Regions from separate parts of the Homo sapiens genome. Here region 2 is linked to region 1. The links come from fine-mapping of genetic effects on gene expression. Tissue or cell type: prefrontal cortex. Region 1 holds a variant in brackets; the other region holds the start of a gene. All regions are shown on one strand. Distances are between the middles of the regions. Region 1 has its middle 22 kb from the start of TENM3-AS1. Region 2 holds the start of TENM3-AS1 (TENM3 antisense RNA 1).

Region 1 (11,196 bases):
TCTCAAGTTTATATACTTTTCTGAATATGCTAGTTTGCATGCTATATAGACTATACATTGAAAACAAAATTGCAAAACCATTGCTTGCTTGATAACTCCATTTTTGAAAAAGAGTCTTTCAGTAAACTTTGTTCTGCTCCAAGAGAACAGAGCTCCTTTTAAAAATGTAGCAAATAGTTTCAGCATGATCTTTTCCTTTATGTTTTATTTAAAATGTTAATGGAGTAAATCCACAATTCACATAATTTATTTTGAAATACTATTGTTCAGAATAATGCATCATGAGAACAGTGATATACAGGCAAGTTCCCTTAAAGAACATGCATCAGTTCAGTTCCCTTTTGAAGCATATTGCAAATGCCCTCTAACAGGGCACAGCAACATTACATAAATCATCTTATATGAAAAATTAACATGACATCAAATATTTATAAATATTAATGTGTATGTTAATATAACCAAAGCTGTAACAAACAATCGTAACCTTGCCAAGTTACCTAGGACAGGCGCTGCTGATAATCATATCCATTATCTCTGGAGGAACGTACAATTATGAAAGTTATACACAGGATGCTATGTTTTTAGCTGCTTTTAAATTTATCCATTAGATGTCTGCCTTACATATAATATTAACCCTTTGCACATACATTCTTAAGAAATATGTAGAAGGCAGCTCATGTGGATAAATACTTTAAAAATCATTTTTATTTAATCATTTACCTGGAAAGTCCCTATATTTTAACATAACTTTATCATAATTGCAGTATATGATGTCCTACAGAAAGCTCACTTGGGGTTGATCTCATTAACCTGTGTTAAATACCACATATGCATTTATACATATGCATGCTACGCCTTAAGAAGGCCACACTTTGCAAAGGTAGATTGGTGATTTGTGGCTATGCAATGTGATGTACTATGCTAGCTCCAGTCCCTCAGGAAAGTCTCTGTGTTGAGGATGGGGTGGGGATGGGGAGTTCTTGGGCTTGCCTGGGCTCAGTAGGGTCAAGTCCATAGTTAAAATTTTTAGTGACTCACAGACCATAGGCATAGTCAGCCAGACAAAGTTTTGCTTGGGGTTCTTTTTTCACTTCAACTCTTTTCGTGGGTAGGGTGAATCAATGCATAGTACAGCAATGTGATTCAGACAGAAGGAGAAAAGGACCACCATTTTATACATGTGCATATAGGGCAGGATCAGGCAAGTCTGGCTCAGAGTCCAGTAGGTTTTCATGGGCACAGCAAGAAGATCACGTTAGAGGCTAAACATACTTCTGGATTGAAGATGTTTTGCTTCACCAAAAGAGAGTTCTTCAGTAAGCAGCATCTGAATCCAACTGTCTAAATCTGTGCCCAAGCCAGAGCATTCTTCATTCTAAAGCACCGAACTTCTGTTTTCAGCCTGACTCCTCGGTGTTACAAAGAGACTATTGTTTTGTGGAAATAGACTCTGATGACTGTGCTCTGCATCACTTACAGGTGGAAATGGGTTTAGCCCTAGGTGTGGTGGAGAAGTGTGACCTTGTTTTCACATTAAAGTTTTTTTGTACATCTCTGGGATCTACGATTGACTTTGGGGCATTTTGACTGTGGATAATAATGCTGATTCAACCTACTTACTCTCTGAAAAACTAAATATGGAATGAGTCATGTCTCGAGTGGTCAGAAAATGCCACTCGAAAATATCTTCCAATTAGAGATTCATTTTATTGCAAATCTGTACAAATAATATGGACTTTAGGTGGGATGTTCAGCCTGATACATATTTTAGTACTAATTGTTTTAATCAGATAAGAAACAAATACTTATCTGGTATCATTTTTAAGTGGGTCAGAATTTTGAATGGGATGCAAAGGAAAAGGGTGAATTAGAGTAGACATTACTTTGTTACTTGTTAATTTAAATATGTATTTTAGACATACGCTTTCAAATCCCCCAAATTGCATTGTCATATTTTGCTACCAGCAATTTTATGCTCTATATTATCATTTATTTTTGGCCCCTATGGACTCATTCCCATGATCCCAAGCATGTAGTTATTACTTCTATCTTTAAAAAAAAAAAAAAAGGCAAGGAAAGGGGGCTTTTCCTTGATTTCCCTATCAGCTACACCCTCTTTTTTGTTTTATTTTATTTTACTTTCTTTATTTTATTCACTGTTTTTTAGGAAAACTCCTTAAAGGGCTTGCCTATGCTGGATGTTTCTAAATGTTCTACTCTCATCTCCTTTAAATCCAATGAAAGTTTTATCATCACCATTCCACAGAAAACACTTTTGTCAAGATGGCCCAAGATCTCCATGCTGCTAAATCCCAACGTCAATTTTAAGCCTTCATTTTACGGTGGCATTTCCCCTTATCCACAGGGAATAAGTTTTAAGACCCCAGTAGATGCCTGAAACTGGGATTATTACCAAATCCTATGGATCCGGTGTTAAAGGAAGCACTTTGTGGTTTCTCTTTGGCAGATCTGCATTGCTAGCCTTACTACTTGCACACCTGGGGGCCATCATTAAGTAAAATAAGGGTGACTTGAACACCAGCACTGTGATACCACAACAGTTGATGTGATCATCGAGATGGAAGGGGCGAGTAGCACACACAGCGTGGATGCGCTGGGCAATGGGAAGATTCACCATCCCAGCAGGGGCGAGTAGCACACACAGCGTGGATGCGCTGGGCAATGGGAAGATTCACCATCCCAGCAGGGGCGAGTAGCACACACAGCGTGGATGCGCTGGGCAATGGGAAGATTCACCGTCCCAGCAGGGGCGAGTAGCACACACAGCGTGGATGCGCTGGGCAATGGGAAGATTCACCGTCCCAGCAGGGGCGAGTAGCACACACAGCGTGGATGCGCTGGGCAATGGGAAGATTCACCATCCCAGCAGGGGCGAGTAGCACACACAGCGTGGATGCGCTGGGCAATGGGAAGATTCACCGTCCCAGCTGGACAGTGAGATTTCATCCCTCCCCTCAGACCAGCGTGCAATTTAAAACTCATGAACTGTTTATTTCTGGAACTTTCTATGTAATATATTCAGACTGTAGTTGACTGCAGTTGAACTCAAACATCAGGAAGTGAAACTGCAAAAAAGTGGGAAGGGACTTATCGTACTTGAACCCATCAGGTCACAGCTTCTCACTTTCTCCGCCTGCACACTTTCCTTCATTTGGCTTTCTGGACACCGTTCTCTCCTGATTGTTCTACTATACTGGCCACGCCTTTTCAGCCTCCTTCACTGATTCTTATTCCCACAGTTTTAATGTTGCCCCAGGGCTCAGCCTTTGTTCTTTCTTAATCTTTCTAGACTCACTCCCTTGGTGAACAACACTGTAGTCTCGAGGCTTTAAGTGCAGGTTATATGCTGACATCTCCTATACTTACATTTCCAGTTCAGATCTCTCTTTCCCTTCTTAACTTCAGATTCACATATGAAATTATCTACTCGACATTTCCACTAGATTGTGTAAACGGGTAGTTTCAGCAGGGTGCTGTGGCTCACGCCTGTAATCCCAGCACTTTGGGAGGCCAAGGTGGGTGGGGCACCTGAGGTAAGGAGTTTGAGACCAGCCTGACCAATATGGTGAAACCCCATCTCTACTAAAAATACAAAAATTAGCTGGGCATGGTGGCACGTGCCTGTAGTCCCAGCTACTCGGGAGGCTGAGATAGGAGAATTGCTTGAACCCAGGAGGCAGAGGTTGCAGTGCACCGAGATCACGCCATTGCACTCCAGCCTGGATAACGGAGTGAGACTCCATCTCAAAATAAATTAAAAAGTAAATAAATAAATAAACAAATAAATGGGTAGTTTCAAATAAAAACTCCTGAACTCTAAAATTAACTCCTTCTGCAGTCTTTCCCATCTCAGTCAATGGCAGCACTGACACTTCAAGTTATTCCAGACAAAACCCTTGGTGGTCTTATTTGACTCCCCCACGCTGTCACTCTTCTCCTCTAATTCATCAGGAAATAGAGTTGTACTTGTTTTATTGTGCTTTGCAGAAATCACATATTTTACAAATTGAAGGTTTGTGGTAACCCTGAGTCGAGTAAGTCTAATGGTACCATTTTTCCAACAGCGTGTGCTCACTTCGTGTCTCTGTGTCACATTTGGTAATTATAGCAACATTTCACATTTTTCATGATTATTACATCTGTTATGGTGACCTGTGATCTTTGATGTTACTATTGTAATTGTTTTGGGGTGCCATGAGCCATGCCTATATAAGACTGCACACTTCATCAATAAATGTTGTGTGTGTTCTGATTACTCCACTGATTGGCTGCTTCCCCATCTCTCTCCCTCTCCTCAGGCCCATCTAGTCCCTGAGACAAGAATATTGTCTTTAGGCTAGTTATTAACACTGCAATGGTCTCTAAGTGTTCAAGTGAAAGGAAGAGTTGCACATCTCTCACTTACATCAAAAGCTAGAAATGATTAAGCTTAGTGAGGAAGGCGGGTACAAAGCAAAATAAGTCAAAAGCTAAGTCTCTTGTGCCAAAGTTAGTCAAGTTAAGAATAAAAAGGGAAAGTTCTTAAAGGAAATATAAAGTGCGACTCCAGTGAAAACTCATGAATGATAAAAAAGTGAAACAGCTTCACTGCTGATACAGAGAATGTTGTAGTGGTCTGGATAGGAAAAAACAAACAAAAAACAAACAACAACAACAACAATAACAACAAAACAGCCATGAAATTCCCTTAAGCCAAAGCCTAGTCCCGAGCAAGGCCATACATTTCTTCAATTCTAAGAAGGCTGAGAGAGACGAGGAAATTGCAGAAGAAAAATCTGAAGCTAGCAGAGGTTGGTTCAAGAAGTTGGTTTAAGGAAAGAAGCCACTTCCATGACATAGAAGTACCAGGTGAAACAGCAAGTGCTGACGGAGAAGCTGCAACAAGTTATCCACAAGATCTAGCTGAGGTCATTGATGAAGACTACACTAAAAAACAGATTTTCAATGTAGATGAAAACAGCTTTGCATGGGAAGATGATGCCACCTCAGACTTTCATAGCTAGAGACAAGTCAGTGCCTGGCTTTGAAGCTTCAGAGGACAGGCTGAGTCTCTTTTAACTAGCTAATGTAGCTAGTTACTTGAAGTTGAAGCCAATGCTCATTTATCATTCCAAAATTCCTAAGGCCCTTAAAATTATGCTAAATTTACTCTGCCTGTGTTCTGTAAAAGGAATAAAACCTGGATGACAGCACATCTGTTTACACCATGGTTTATTGGAAATTTTAAGACCACCGTTGAGACCTACTGCTCAGAAAAAAATGATGCCTTTCAAAATATGACTGTTCACTGATAACATACCTGGTCACCCAAGAGCTCTGATGGAGATGCGCAGATATTCACACCTGCTAATACCACATCCATTCTGCAGTCCATCAGTCAAGGAGTAATTTCAACTTTCAAGTCTTATTATTTAAGAAATACATTTTGCAAGACTGTCACTGCCATAGATTTTTATTCTCTGATGGATCTGGACAAAGTCAGTTGAAAACCTTCTGGAAAAGGTTTGCCATTCTAGATCCAATTAAGAACATTTGAGATTCATGGGAGGAGGTCAACATTAACAGGAGTTTGAAAGAAGTTGATTCCAACCCTCATGGATGACTTTGAGCATTTCAAGACTTCAGTGGAGTAAGTTGCTGCAGACATAGTAGAAATTAAAGAGAA[A/G]TAGAAGTGGAGGCTGAAGATGAGTCTGCATTTCTGCAATCTCATGATCAAACTTGAACAGATAAGGAGTTGCTTCTTATGGAAGAGCAAAGAAAGTGGTTTCTTGAGAGGGAAACTACTCCTGGTGAAGATGTTGTGAACATTGTCAAAATGACAATAAAGGATTTACAATATTCCATACACTTAGTTGATAAAGCAGTGGAAAGGTTTGAGAGGATTGACTCCAATTTTGAAAGAAGCTCTACTGTAGGTAAAATGCTATCAAATAGCATCACACACTATGGAGAAATCTCTTGTGAAAGGAAGACGTAATCAATGGGGCAACTTCACTGTTGTCTTATTTTAATAAATTGCCACAATCACCCCAACCTTCTGCACCTACCACCCTGGTTAATCAGTAGCCATGAACACTGACGCAAGATACTCCATCAGCAAAAATATTATGGCTTGCTGAAGGCTCCAATGATCTTTAGAATTTTTTAATGATAAAATTTAAAACTTAAGGTATGTACATTGTTTTTTAGACATAATGCTATTAAATGTTTAATAGTATAGTGTAAACATAACTTTTATATGCACTGGGAGACCAAAAGAAACCATGTGACTCACGTTATTGTGATATTAGCTTTATGGCAGTGGTCTTTATTGAAGTGGTCTTTAGCTCTACATTAAAAGCATATCCAGAGTCTAACCTAGTCTTACCACTTCCATAGGTATTATCCTTAGCCACCAACGTTATTTTGCCTATGTTATTGCAATAGCCCAACTACTCTCATTATATCTACACCTGACTCCTTATTGTCTATATTCTCAATCCAGAAGCCAGAGTGCACCTTTTAAAATGCGAGTCAGAGGCCAGGCGGGGTGGCTCACATCTGTAATCCCAGCACTTTGGGAGGCCGAGTTGGGCGGATCACTTGAGGTCAGTAGTTCGAGACCAGCCTGGCCAACATGGTGAAAACCCGTCTCCACTAAAAATACAGAAGTTAGCCGGGTGTCGTGTGGGCGCCTGTAATCCCAGCTACTCGGGAGGCTGAGCCAGGGTAATCACTTGAACCCGGAGGGCGGAGGTTGCAGTGAGCCAAGATCATGCCACTGCACTCCAGACTGGGCAACAGAGTGAGACTGCATCTCAAAAAAATAAATAATAAATAAAAACAAAATGGAAGTCAGAACATGGCATGCCTTTGCTCAAAATCCTACAATGCGTATACAAGTCAGTCAGAGAGAAAGCCATGGTCCTATAATATCTTACTAGGTCTTGCATGATCTGATCCTCTGTTACCCCTTTGACCTCAACTTCTAGAACCTTCCTCCATTTTTATAACACCTCAGGAATCCTGGTCTGCTTGCTGTCCCTTGAACACATCAGGCATACTTGGTACCGGACACTGGCTATTCACTTGCTCAGAACAGTTTTGATGCACTCCCTCATTTCTTTTTAGCACTTCCTTGAAGTCTTTATTCAAATTTCCTTTTCTCAAGGAAGTTTCATTTGACTACCTTTTTTAAAGTTGCAAATGACCCTTCTTCCAACCACCAGTACTGATCCCACATACCCTGCTTTGTCACAAATATATTTTCATAGCTCTTATTACTTTATAACATTCTAGATAATTTACCTATTTGTTACATATATGTATACATACAAGCAAATACATGTGTATATACACACACGTGTGTATATACACAACACACATATATATGTAGGTACATATGTGTAGTTGTGCATCGCTTGGCAGAGATACATTCTGAGAAATGCCTCCTTAGGTAATTTCATCATTGTGTAAACATCACAGAGAGCAATTACACAAACCTAGATAGTACAGCCTACTATACATCAGGGCTATATGGTAGGGCCTATGGCTCCTAGGCTACAAACCTGTACAGCATGTGACTGTACTAAGTACTGTAGGCAGTTGTAACACAATGGTAAGGAATTGTGTGTCTAAGAACATCAAAACATAGAAAGGTTCAGTGCCTGAACCTCTCTTCAAGGGACTAACCAAAAGTGAAGAAGAGAAAGGAGTGTGTGTGTGTGTGTGTGTGTGTGTGCGCGCACGCACGCATGTGTGTATTTGTGTGGTAATGAAAAAACTGTCAGTGGACTCACAATTTGTAGATTATGTTTATCTAAAAACTATGGGGAGGACAGGTGCAGTGGCTCACACCTCTAATCCCAGCACTTTGAGAGGCTGAGGCAGGAGGATCACTTGAGTCTAGGAGTTTGAGACCAGCTTAGGCAACACATGGAGACCATGTTTCTACAAAAAATTATAAAATTAGCCAGGCACGGTGGTATGTACTTGTAGTCCCAGTTACCTGGGGATCTGAGGTGGGAGCTTGAGCCCAGGAGTTTGAGGTTGCAGGGAGCCTTGGTCATGTCACTGCACTCCAGCCTGGATGACAGAGCAAGACCCTATCTAAAATGAAATAAACTGTGTGTTTTTTTCCATAGTTTCTGATCTGCCATTTAAGGAGCTTAGAAGTCTCCACTCTGTCCTAAGAACAAGAAAAAAACACTGAATGAACTGGAAATCAACAACTTCTTTAGGTCCCTCAAAGAAGGGAGGTCACAGGGAAAGCTGCTGCCCCCAAATTTGGAGAGATAAATGGGCAGGTACATAGAATCACAATTCTCTGTATCCGTGGAGCAGAAACCCACCTGCAGAAACCTCTGCTGGAACCAGTGCCAGGGAGGTAAACCGGAACCGTAATTGATGAATTGCTGAAGGCTCCGTGTGGCCAAGTCTGAGAGATAAAAACTCCACGGAGACTCAGTCGAGGGGCCTTCACACTTTTGTGAGTTTTAAGAGCTCTACCAGTTCTTCCTGGTGTATATAGGAGAAATATTTCTTCGTGCTTCGGCAGGGAGAGAGGAAAAGGAGCCATTTCGAAATACATCGGAGCATTTTGTTTTTCTTAACAAGTTCCGCCCTCAGGAGAAACTTTTACCAGATCCTAACTTGCTGGAATTTTGTCAGAGCCTAATCTACCTGGGGGGAGGGAAATACTCATCTCTAGCCCCTTCCAGCCATTCTCTCCCACCCAAGGGAGGGAGGGCTGAGAAGCAATGGTGACAACAGTTCCAGTCCAAAGGCACAGACTTACTGAAAGACTGAGACCCTGTCATGGGACTACGGAATGCTTCCTCTCCCTTGACACCTGACCACCACATCGCTAATGGCCTATTTTTTTGCAGTTCTTTTGTACCCAGAACATTATGTCTGCCTTTCAACAACCTACAGATCAAATCTCTCATGAGCACAGAGACAAAAATCTTCAACAAAGTATTAGCAAATCAAATCCAACAATGTATAAAAAGTATTATATACCACGGCCAAGTGGGGTTTATCCCAGGTATGTAAGGCTGGTTCGACAATCAATTAATGTAATCCATCACATTGACAAGCTAAAGAAGAAAATTTACATGACCATTTTCATAGATGCAGAAAAGACATCTGATAAAATCTAACACCTATTCATAATGAAAACCTCTCAGTAAACTAGGAACAGTGAGATATGTTCTCAATTCTTAAAAAATCTACAAAAAAAGGTGGAGGGGGGAGCTGGCACAGTTACAGGCTCATGCCTGTAATCCTAGCACTTTAGGAGGCCAAGAAGGGTGGGATGCTTGGGGCCAGGAGTTCAAGATCAACTTGGCCAACATAGCTAGACCCCCATCTCTAAAAAAATAAATAAAAAATAAAATTTAAAAATCTACAAAAAAACCCCTACAGCTAACATTATACTTCATAGTGAGAAACTTGAAGCTTTCCCACTAAGATCAGGAACAAAGCCAGGCTGTCCTGTCTTACCACTGCTTTTCATCATTGTACTTGAAGTACTAGCTAATTCAATAAGACAAGAAAGGCAAATAAAATGTATATGGATTGGGAATGAAGAAATAATACTGTCTCTGTTCGTGCATGACATGATTGTCTGCATAGGATCTGAAAGAACTGACAAAAAAACCTCCTGGAATTAATAAGTAATTAATGATAATCATCATAATTATAATTATTATAATTATAGCAAGTTTACAAGAAACAAGTTTAATATGCAAAAATTGATCACTTTTCTGTATAGCAGCAATTAACATCACATTAATTTGAAAATAAAAATGCACCATCATATGCATTAGCACGTAAAAAATGAAGTACTTAGGTTTAAAGCTACAAAACTCTGATTTAAGATATGAAACAAGAAATATGTAAATGGAGAGATTACTCATGGATGAGAAGAATCAATATTTTCAAGATGTCAGTTCTTCCCAACTTGATCTACAGATTCAATTCAACTGCAATTAAATCTTAGTAAGTTTTTTTGTGCATAACTTAGAGTTGACAAACTGATTCCAAAGTTTATATGGAAAAAAATATCCAGAATATTAAAGGAGAAGAGCAAAGTCAGAGGACTGATGCTATTCAACTTCAAGACTTACTAGAAAGCCACAATAATCAAGAAAGTGTGGTGTTGGTGAAAGAATAGACAAATATATCTATGGAACAGAATAGAAAGTCTAGAAACAAATCAATATAACTATAGCTTGCTGATCTTCAACAAAGGAGCAAAAGCAATACAGTGGAGCAAAGATATTCTTTTCAATAATGCTGGAACAACTGGACATCCACATACAAAAAAATAAGTCTAGACACACACCTCACAATGTTCACAAAAATTAACTCAAAATGGGTCAGAGACCCATATATAAAGTGTAAAACTATAAAACTGGAAGATAACACAAGAGAAAATCTCAGTGACCTTGGCTTTGGCAATGACTTATTAGATACAACACTAAACACATCATCCGTGCCTTTGTCAATAAATATGATCAAGAAAGAATTGATAAGCTGGGATTTATTAAACTTAAAATCTTTTGCTCTGCAAAAGACAGTGTCAAGAGAATGAAAAGACGAGCCACAGACTAGAAGATATTTGCAGAAGACACAGCTGATGAAGAACTGTTATCCAAAGTATACAAAGAATACCTAAAACTCAACAATAAGAAAATTAACAACTTGATTAAGCATTGGGCCAAAGATGTCAGACACTACACCAAGGAAGATACACAATGACAAGTAGGCATATGAAAAGATATTCAACATTATATATAATTTGGGAAATGCAAGTTAAAACAATGAGATACCACTACACAACTATTAGAATGGCCAAAATCCAAAACATGATGGTACCAAATGCTGGTGAGAATGTAGAGCAACAGGAACTTTCATTTATTGCTGCTGGTAATGCAGAGTGGTGCACTTTGAAAAACAGTTTGTTCATTTCTTACAAAACCAAGCACACTCTCCAAAACTTGCAAACAACCAATATATCCTTTAGTAGTTGATTGGATAATTAAATGTGGTATATCCAGATCATGGAATATTATTCAATGCTAAAAACAAATGACCTATCTGGCCAAGAAAAGGCATGGAAGTTGTATTAGTCTGTTCTCACGCTGCTGTGAAGAAATACTTGAGACTGGGTAATTTACAAAGGAAAGAGGC
Region 2 (11,196 bases), 23 kb before region 1:
AAAGTAGCTTTTCTGTTTGGGGGAGGGAACAGAGAACCACAAATCCACGTCACCCTCTTATTCAGAGTGTGCTGCTATCTTCATAGACAGCCACTGCATTCAGAGGTGCTACGGAATCGGACTGAAGGAAGACAGTCACTACCAAGCTGTTAATCCTTTCTAAGTAATGGCAACCTGAAGAGGTATTAGCATAAGAATTCTAACAAATATTACTAGTAATTAAATAAAGGAAAGAATGACTAAAATATATTAAGAGCTGTATCTTTAAAGGTAAGTGGCCTTTATAAGTTACCTCCTAAATGGTCTTTTTAAATAATCAGAGTCGTGTGGGTTTTTTTAAGTCTCTACATAGAAAACTATAACTTGATTTTCAGTCTTATAAACAAAGCAAGCATGCCTATAAAATAGAGCTCTTAGTACATTTTCTTTTTTCCATCAGTATAAGCAACTGTATACAATATTTGGAATGTCTTGGATTAAATTTAAAAACTGATACTCTGGTTCTCCTGCAGGGATTGAAAATACATATATTTAAAAGTGAAAAAATTTACAAGTTAATTTTCTTCTGTACTTACCCAATTAAAATAAATGACAAAATTTTCCCTTTAGTCTGCTTTTCCTGTCACACACCCTGCTACATACAGAAAATGCTCAAAGGGCCATCGCTCATTATAAAAGATATTCAATTTCCTATTTTCTCCTCTTTCTCTCTCTTTCTCTTACTCCCCTCCCTTCCTCTTTTCCTTTCTTCCTCCCTTCCTCCTTCCCTTATCTTTTTTTGGTTTTGAGGCAGACACCAAGTAGACCCAGTTATAAAATAGCTGGTTATTATTAATATGATCCCATCCCAGGGCAACCAAATCACATTATCCCCACCTCTCCCCAACTACTCTAACAGAAGTAAAAACTACTCCACAATATTTGAGAATATACTATCAACAAACGCAATTTTTGTATCCCATGACTTTTATATAATTATATAAATGATACAATTTTATATCATTAAATGCAAGTGTGAATACAGGCACTATGTCTTCCCCAAGGTATTTTCAGAAGGTATCACTGTGTTTTTGCATGCTCTAGTACAAACTACAGAACTATGAATGTGGGTCAAATAGTAAGTAATAATAGTAATAAATGCCACATCTCCATAAGTAATGATTGACTCCTAAACTTACAAAAAAGAATATAAGCATAGTTTAGTGTTATGCTACATTTCACTCCACACATGCTCCTAAACATATAAGAATTACCTATTTTCTGAAGGAAGTCAAGGAACTCGGTTAAGACTGCCACCTATCACAAACTTGTTTGAAAAGTCAGTGCTACCCGATCCTAGCTCTTCCAAGATTCCAAGAAAGTTATCAACAGGGAAGTAAAATCTCATTATTATTATTATTATTACATGATATGGTTTCAGTCATCCACTCATATGACTTATGAGTTCATTCTATGATACTGACATTAATTTGCAGTGACTAATTTAAAATAGAAAGACATGGGTTTGAGTAGATCACTATTTTTAGTAAATTCCATGTAGCTGTTCTAGCTAGGCAATCACCTGGGTTATTTAACCAAAACTACAGAAAATTTTATTGCAATTCCTTCAAAAGAATGAATCCTATTGTAGTTTCAGTGTACGAAACATCTGTGTATCTCAGGGCATGTTTCTGCATTTTGATAGTTTATACTCTAGCACTTGTGTAAAATAACATTTTGAAAATGGTAATTTAACTGCATTATTTTAGCATTTAAAACTATTTTAAATGGATGTCTTAAGCTGGAAAAACACCAATCCGATGCCAAGAATCTATCATTACAGAGAATAAAATAAAGATACATAGTTCTTATCAAGTTTTTTTCCTTCCTGAAAGTAAAGAGTAATGCCATTGTGGGAAGTTTACACGCACTAGAAAGCAGTTACATCTTTCTTTAGAAATCATATATACTACGGATATACGTTGATATATATGGATATATATTGATATATATGGATATACTGTGGATATATTAGAATGCTAATCTATATTAATCTTATATTCTGTGCTCCTAATCTTTTATTTGATTGGGACAACATGTATCACAATGCAATATGAACCAAAGCCCAAGAAAATCTTAAAGTGGTCTTTCAGAAGAGACTTAAAAGCTGATAAAACCAAAGATGACCAGGTACAGATAAGAAACAAATGCAAATATCACAGTGGGGATGATAACGTTCACCATCTCTTCACATTTCCATTAAGGAATTACCTCCACATGCATTATCTTTCATTGTCAGGATTACACCATCTTATGAAATAAAGTTATAACACATGCACAAGAGGTCCATCCAAAATTCTAAGAAATCTCTGAAAAACTGAACTAGAATGTTAATACAAACAAAAAAGGAAATAACCTAGATGGATTACAGTTACTATTAATGACTCAAAAGGCCATAAAATCCTTTGATGGGCAAGAAAATATGCCTTGAGGCATATTGCATTTTGGGAAAATAGGCTATTTGAGTTGAATATATGTTAATGAATTGCTTCCTCATGTTTTATATAATTCTTAGAAAAAGTTCAAATTAGGTCCCCAATAGGATGTTTTAATTATGAGAAGCAATCTTTTGAAACTCATACAAGCCATCACACTCGTTTGGAAACAAATGACTTTTCAAGATGGAGAAGTATCACTATCAATCACCAACAAGTTAATTCTACATAATAAGGCAGGTTTGGATGCAAACTGATCCATTGTGGAATGCTGTATCTAAAATTGATTACAACAGCACTCAAAATGAACGCAGCCCTCCAAACCACTTCTTTGCTCAGAAACATTAATCTCAATTAGAAGGAGAGCTTCATAATGGTCATGCTTGGTATAAAAAAGTATAAAATAAATCAGGTTTTATAAGACACAACAATTAGTTTTCAGACTAAGGTTTATTTTATTTTATTTTATTTTGAAGCACAAAATTTCCATCAGGTCTGTTAAACCAGCTGATGTTTCCAAAAATAAGTTTTAAATGTATTCTAAAAGAAGCTTACGTAAAATAATTTTTAAAACTTAGTTGTCGAAACTTTTAAATAACGTAATATTGTGTTATCTTTTCAACAGACTTTACTCCGAATGCATGTGTTCAATTTTCCTACGGGCTATCATTCCACTTTACAAGGCAACTATGAACACAACACTAACTTCAACTAGAAATTTAAAGGAATATGTAATTGGTTATGGACCACGGTAAACGTTTGGTGGCAAACTATTATATTCTTTGCTCATATTCTCAACCTAAGTAAAAAAAAGTATGCCCTCGAAGTCCAAACGGATATCTGACTATCAAACGAAACACAGGGTAGATGAGCAATGTGTAATTCAACATGCTTAACAGGTTGCACAGCTTCCAGAAAAGGGCAGACAATTCATCACAGCTGCTGAACACACTGATTCAAATAAATATAAAACTTGGATGATATTCAACCACCATCCAGAAATCAAATTTTTACAGGGTAAAATAAAGTTTAATAAAAAGGAGGCACATGCATTTATTTAAATAACCAATATTAATAAACTAATAAACTTGGCTTTGTTGGGCTTTCATATCAGACAATGACCATGCTCTGAACTTATTCCCTAGTATCCCTATAGGTAGGATAAACTTCAGCATCTCCAAACATACATTAACAGCTATTGCAAAGACATCATTTTTTGTACACCGAGCCTAACGGTGATTCAGTATTTCTGACAGGTCACTCTACTCACAACGATAGCCACGCGCTTCTTCCTGCTATCTTCTTTGCTTGACTCTTTACAAACAGAATAATTACTCTTGGCTCCCAGAAGCAAAGCTAAGAAAGAGTAGCTTGAACTTACTAACTGGATCATTATTGTTTAGCTAGGTTTCCTTTCTGAATAAGTTTAAAAGTTTTCACTCTCTTTAGGAGCTTTTTTCTATTCAAAGATAAGCATCCTTATCTTTCTTTGTCTTCACCCTAATAAGGCAGGTTCCCTTTTCTAACCAAAAGACTGATGACACGCCTACAGAATCATAGTAAGAAAAGCCTCAATAATTTACCTAAAACATCTTTCTAGAAAATAAACACAGCCATGCAAAATAATCCCGTTTGGAGGAATAACTAGTCACAATTCCATAAATCTATCTGCTTTATTCCCAATAATCAAGTAATCCTCATTAGGGTGCATAGGTTGCTAACATAAAGCTATTGGCACAGGGGGTTCACAGAGTTTTCCAAATATATAAACGTTAGCATGGTGATTAGTACAACTACATTTTTTATAAAAACTGTGCAGTGCATGTAAAATGTGTGTTTGATTTGAACTACTTTTTCTAACTATTCTTTTCTAAGTTATTTAACATAAGATATATTTGTTTACTATTAGAAAAAAATCTTTGATTAAGAGGAATAATAAAATTCGTGTAAGAAAAAAAGAACAAGATTGTTAAGGGAAATGCAACAGGAAGAGATACAGACAATCCTGAAATACACAATAGAATAACTAAACTCATTATAAACTCCTATCTTTGAAGAATTTAGGAATAATTTGTGAATGCCATGACATTTTAAAGTGGGATTAGCAAGTCTTATTACTGAACTAACCTCTCACTCTTAGATCAAGAATTAAATATTTACTCTGCATTTAGAATTACAAATCCAAACTTTCAGGGCTCATACAAGAATTTTATATATTAAGATATACATGCTCGAAGTTTTAGATAATTAAAAGTGTATTAAGGAATGCACAAAGCAAGATTGTTGAATTTATAAAATCTTGTTTTAATTGAAATATTAAAATAGATAATTATTATTACACAGTTGCTCTTAATTCTAAAGTCAGTCTGTTCTCAATATATTAATACATAAAGACTACAAATACTTCTCCAAGTAGGCAGTGGGGAAAAAGGGATATGCGTCATTATTTTAAAGAAATTCACTAAGGGATCAAATCACCAAGTTCTGTTCAGTTACAATACCATCTTTTGGGATACTCTTCCAAGCTTTCCAGAGATGCCATATCCACCTTTTTTCTTTTGACAAGAGAAGGGAAAGGTAATGCCTCAACATATGTCTATTTCTAGTGAAAAGACCACCCAGTGGATTCTGCCAGAGTCTACCAATGTTTGACAAAATACATTGTCAGAAGATAAGAAATAGAGCATGATGAAGAGACAGTCCTGTTCTCGGGCATCCCAGCCGTCTGGGGCCCTGTAAAAAGTCTAGGACAGCTCTCAGCCTTTCATTTCCATTGCACCTCCTCACACGTACCTGGAAACTTTTCTCTACCTCCAAATTACAGTGACTTGGGGAAACACACGTGTGTGATGTATTACACGGTACAAGTACTTGTTACCCTCTCTCTACAATAAAAATTAACAAGTTACCACTCCAGCTACCTTAAAGGTGAGGCAGTAAGAATGGAATCCAAGCTGCATAGTAAGATGCTCAGCAAAGATCAATCAGACACAACCCGCCTCAACCTAAAATACGTGAAGCTCTTTGTAATCGGTTGTAAAACACGAGAGGGACTTAGAATCTCAGTTGCAGGCTCATAAATTCGTAATTTTTGAAACGCCCAGCTCAGGATATTTTGTGTGTGTTTCCAACCCCATCCAGAGTTTCCCGATCAAGTTTCAGCCGTGATCCACCACTCCCCACGCTACCCCTCGCCCCGCACTCTCCCTCCTTCACTCCTTTTCAACTTGGCTCCCTGATCGCTGCAGAAGCCTTCTGTCCCCTGCCTGCCCCGGAAAGCGGTGACATCCCGGGGCTTTCCGCTCGCTGGAAGCCCCCCAGGATCCTGTTAAGACGCCCCCGCAGAAGACGCGGGGCCTCGCCACACATCGGGGGCCGAAGAGGACCTGGCGGGCTCCCCTCCCCGCCCCCACTGGGCGCCCAGCCTCCGGACTGCCTTCCTCAGGGACCCCGGGGCTCCCCAGTACGGGGGCGCGGCGCCTGGCTCCCCGGGCGAGAGGCGCCGGCGAAGTTCCCACCTGAGCCGGCGGCCGGAGGTGGCTGGCGCGAGGGCGGGGCGGGGACGGGGAGGCCGGACCGTGGAGAGAATCCGCGCGCTGAGAAGATGTCCCCGCGTCCGCCGCCTCCCGGGGCCACGCGCCGTCCCAGCTCGCGCCCGCCAGCTCCCGGCGCCGCGGCCCGGCACTAGGACCCCATAAAGGAAGGAGGGCGCGCCGGCGGCGGCGCCGCACTTACCGCGCTCGGCTCGCCCGCGCCGCCGGCTCGCTCCCCGGCAGCAGCCGCCGCGTCCGCCCGAGCCGCGCGCACACCGCGCCGGGCCAAATTCAAAGGAGCCGGGCGCGGGGGAGGGGGGCCCCGCCGAGGGAGCGGGGAGCGGGCGCCGGCGGGGCGGGGGCGGGGAGGGGGCGCGAGTGTTACAACTTCCTTCCCTGCCCGCCCCCGGCCGCGCGGCCCGGGGACGCGGGAGGGGAGGGCGCCCGCGCGCCAATGAGTTCACTTTCTTTCTCTCCCCCGCGCTCCCCCTCTCCCCGCCCGCCGGCCCCTCCAGCCTCCTCCAAGGCGGCGGACCAGGCCGGGCCGGAGTTTTCGGGGTTCAGCCCGCGAGCGGGAGGACCGGGGAGGCGAGGGAGGAGGAAGGCGAGAAGGGCCAGGTGAGGAGGCCCGCGGGACGCCCGGCCAGGGAGCGGCATCCAGGACCGTAATTGTGCGGCGGGGGACGCGCCGGGCCGAGTGTGCCCGAGCCCGGGCGCGTACACGTGTCCGTGTGTGTGTGTGTGTGTGTGTGTGCGGGAGTGTGCGAGGGAGAGGAGGAGAGGAGAGGAGCCTACCATGCGCTTCCCCCGGTGCAGATCGCGGGAGAGCCCAATCACGGGGCGAGCTGGACCTGGCTGTGATCATTTATAATCCTTGACTCCTCCGCTCCGCCACTTGTCAAGATGACAGGTACTTTATTTCTTCTTCTTCTTTATTCAAAAAAAGAGATTCCCCGTTTACTGCCTTTTTCTGTCAAATGGGATTTGCCGGACTGAACCACGTTCGCCGCCCCTCCCTCCTTCCCTCCTCCCGGCCGCGTCGGGTTCGGGAAAGCACCGAGGCTCCCATGCTGTGACCAATCAGTGCCTTTACTACTCTCGCCGTGATTTAGGGGTCATCCGTGAATAACACTTCACGCTGATGAATGGCTCTTGCCGGCTTTCGGCTCTGATGAGGGGTCTGCCCGCCGCCGATTGAAAACACTAATGAACTTACTGCGCCATTTGAAATTCACACGCACCAACAAAATGGGGGTACGTGCGTGGGGGTCTGTCCTTTTCTGCTGCGGGTGGCGGGGAGGCGGCCCTGGGGGAGGGGGCGGGTAATTGCTTTGGACTTAAGTGGAAACACTTCTCTGTGTAATCAAACCTCTAACCTTCTTAGAAAACTACTTTTCTTGATCTTCCGTAGGGTGGGCATTTCAGGTCAGCTGAGTCACCCGAGGAGGTGGCAGTGCAAGACACTGCCGGGAAGACGGATTCCGAGGCAGAAGGGTGTAATTAAGGATTTCCACCCCCGGTAGGCGGCCCGTCCTTTGCAGAGCCTCTGAAAATGACCCGCGCCTTCCTTTCCACAGTGTTCTTTCGTCCGAGACCGAAAAGCGCAAATGACCTTTGGACAGGGAAGGGAGGCAGTAAACACTCAGACTTCCTTACCAGCCCCTGGTGGGCACTGCAGCAGAACAATTGTCTGCCCCCCAGGTTCAAGCACCTAGGCCTCCGCCCCGCATCACCTGGCCAGGGGCGGACCCGGGAGTCCTCCGAAGGCTCCACTCCCCACTTTTACTACTCTTCTTTCCTCTCCATTCTCCCCTCAGATTAGCGGCCGGACACTGTCCCTGCCTCGATTTTGTTTGCTGTGGGAGGGAAAAAAAAAGTTTGCTGCTCCTCCCAAGACACTGGCCACTTTCTACTCACTGAAGTTCCCACCGCAGCGCTGGCTCCCGGCTCCCTAGCTCCCGCCCCCTGTCTGCAGGAAAGCCCTCCCCCGGAGCTTCCGAAACTGCTGGAGGTTCCAGAGTTTTGTAGCTCCGAATGGGCGACCTGAGCCGAACCGCTCTCTGGCTGGGTGGTCGGCGGGATCCTTCAGGCTCCTTTCGGGTCCGGGACGGGGCGGCGGCAGAGGTGGGGCGTGCGTGCTTGGGGCTGCCGAGTGAGTGCGGCTCCCTGGTGCGCGCCCGAGCATCTCCCCGCCCTCTCCTGGGACCAGCAGTCTGCCCGTGGAGGGCTAGGAGCCCGCGACCAGGCCTGCCCCGGCCGTCGCCAACCTGTCCTTGGAAGCGTGGCGGAGACTGGTGCGCTCTCAGCCTCGTCGCGCCAGCCGCCTCGCGCCACCCTCCACTTTCAGCTTCAGAGCAGAGGATTCCGCCGACCTCCACCTGTACCTGTACTCGGCCGTTAGGAAATCCACTTGCATTTTTAACTACCGTGCAGAACCAGAAACAGATCGAGCACTGGGAGAACAAGGACGACGCCTCCTAGGAAAGCCTGAACCTTTATGTTAGTTTATCCAAAGTTTGGGCTAGAAGTGAGGAGAATCCCTAAACTCGAGGTGGTGTGCCCAGACCCACAGCCCGTGTTCCCGAAGTTGCTAAGTGCCCGAGCGCAGCGCGTTAAGTAGAGAAGTCTTGGTAGTAAGCGAACCCGACCCGGCTCTCGGGGCGCTAGTGACGGAAAGCAGCACGCATATCTTTGCGGGAAGAATCTAGAGTCGCCCTGGGATAGATCCATCTCCTTCTGCCACTGAATTTCACACTTGAAAAAGATAAGGTCATGGGGGCGGATGAATGATATCCCTCACTCATTTAGCCATTCTTATTATTATATAAAAAAAAGGCTTGTCAATTATGAAGGTGTGTCCCAGATATTACATGAAGATCATGCAAACTACTTGAAATTTGAATCCGGACATGATCGTAAGGAAACTCTTTCATAAAGCACTTTTGTGGCCTAGTTCCCACACACACACAAAAGTATTAGGTCTTTAAAACTTTTCCAAGTAGTAAGTGAGACTCCCTCTTACTGTCTACGAATACACAATAAAGAGATGAGACACTGCCCCAATCCTAAAGAGGCCAGAACTGAAGTGCTACATTGTGTGAGTTAGGGGATGCTTCTTTTTTCCAGCTCTTTTTTCTAGAATCCTCATTACAGCTAACGCTGGTAATAAAGGTAGGAAAACAATAGAACTCATAAAACTTAGAAATGGTAATAAATCTTGGCTCCTGTCTCTAGCCCAGTTCCTTCTTACATGAGATTCAAAGTTTTTCAGTATGCAATGCTGAACGTTCACACTATGGTTGCAAAATAGAAAAAAATACTCTAGAACTCATTAATACGGCCCTGCGCACTCTATGCCAGGCGTCGCTGGTGGACAAAGCGCGCAGGGGTCCTCCTCTACGTCTGCCTGCGCCTGTAATCCAGGCAGCTTACGTGTGTTAAATTTGGGTCTCTCTCTGTCTCTCACACAAAGAAGTTCCATCATTTGAGGCCGTTAGGAAAAGCTGATGTTGTGCAGTGCCAAACTACCACACGCTTCCTCCTTCGGATGAATCCCTGGAAAGCAGAGAGGCAGCTCGCTACGTGACCATCATGCTTTTTACCTCACTGAGCTGTTGTCAAGAGAGGGCGGGGATGGCGGGCAGCTCACGTCGTGCCCTCCGCAGCAATAAAAACTGGAGCGGGAGAAGAAATGCAAGACATCGCTGTCTGTTTTGCAAGCCTCTGGCCGCTCTCAGCAAACTCTGCCCGGCGCGGCTGGTGACTTTGCGGTGTGAACGCAGCCGGTCGTGCTCGGGATAATGGGACCGAGCTGGCGGCATCGCCCTCCCGTGGGCCCCTCTTGCCACACAGATGCGCAGCTCTCCAAAAGGAAAATGTGGCCCAGCAACCCTCGCCTAGCCCTAGTCCTAGGAATGCATGCCTGGGGCCTTTGGAAGCCTCTCAAAGGGCTGGGGGGCGGGGGGGAGGGATATAATGGGCCGAACCTCTGGATTCATTTTGGGGAAGAGGAGACAGGTTCTTGCCCCACTACTGAGGCAAGGCCAACAGCACCCTGCCCTGCTGCTCCACCGCCTCCCCGCGGGTCAAGTCTCAGCCGAGTGTCGCTGCCCACCTGAAGGTGACACCTGTCCATTTTAGTCAGCATCACATGCGCCTTCCCTTTCTCCCCTTTGGGGTCTGTCCGTTTTCTCCTCCTGTCCTAAAGAGCCAGCTTGGAACTGAAGGGGCCGGGTAGCAGCTGTTTGTGCCTCTTGCCCGTGCAGACTCGAGGGTCTCCGCAGCCACTTCCTCCTTTAACACGCGAGGCTTTCAGGCGTGCAGAAGGGGACCGCCGGGTCAGGCAGGTATTAGGCTCTCCAAGGACACTTGTGGACATCACTGGAGTTTACCTATTGTTTGGACTTTATTACATCTGCTTTAGCAAACGGAGGCATGAGCGGCCTGTCTGCTGGGTTCAAACCCAGTTGCTGCCCCGGCTGCAACCTCTCCCACTCAAGAGACCCTAGGAACGATGAGGAACGGGGTAGAAATGACCAGGGGAGCCAAATCTCAGGTACCGAGACCTTCCAGCTCACCCCTCAGGCTCAGGAAAGCCAATAACCCACATATGCCCAAAAGGAGCTTATGTCTCAACTGAGAACAGCAAATAGGTGATGGGCCACTTTAGAACAGAGGCTAAAGGCTGGTAGCCACTGAGCAAAACCCAAATTCTAGGCACCTGAGGTGTTTCCCTTACACAAGTGCCTTCACAGGTAGCAAGCAATTAATCTGCAACAGTGAACAACACTAAAACTTAAATTTTACATGGAAGTCTCTCAAGTAGACAAAGTTATTATTGGGTGGGGTTTTCCCCCCACTGGCAAAAAAATAACTTATCCCTTGGCTGTTAGATTGAGGGAACTATAAAACAAATATTTTAATTCGATCACTGACAAAGTCATAAAATTCAATGACTGTTTGTAGAGGAAAACATGCTTTCATTATCTTAATTAAAGCAAGATAAGCCTCTCTCAATGTGCATGCATTTTGGAGCCACTGAATGGACTGGTGATGAGACGAAGCAACCTTTAATTGGGACCATGCTTCTCCAGTACATTCGTTTGTATTCCATGGTGTAAACCGGGCCTTACGCGTGGCTCCGACCTTCGGTGGAAATGCATTTGCGTAGCACCACCCAGGGGCTCCCT

Evidence for each region. PIP is the estimated chance that this variant, and not a neighbour inherited with it, causes the effect.
Region 2: it holds the start of TENM3-AS1, and the variant in region 1 is fine-mapped to the expression of TENM3-AS1 in prefrontal cortex (GTEx, PIP 0.97).

The regions. Positions count from the first base shown.
Region 1 is chr4:182,116,641-182,127,836 of GRCh38, reverse strand. It overlaps a transcript of TENM3 not described here. Among named protein-coding and RNA genes, the nearest start is that of TENM3-AS1, 22 kb to the left of the region's middle. The variant A/G (reference allele first, on the strand shown) is at 5,687.
Region 2 is chr4:182,139,768-182,150,963 of GRCh38, reverse strand. It overlaps TENM3-AS1 (TENM3 antisense RNA 1), which reads left to right and starts at 6,449. Exons shown (of 5, transcript NR_125905.1): 1 at 6,449-6,625; 2 at 6,824-6,917; 3 at 7,120-7,261; 4 at 7,419-7,526; 5 at 9,480-11,196. It also overlaps a transcript of TENM3 not described here. RefSeq lists enhancers at 5,204-6,192, 9,147-9,953.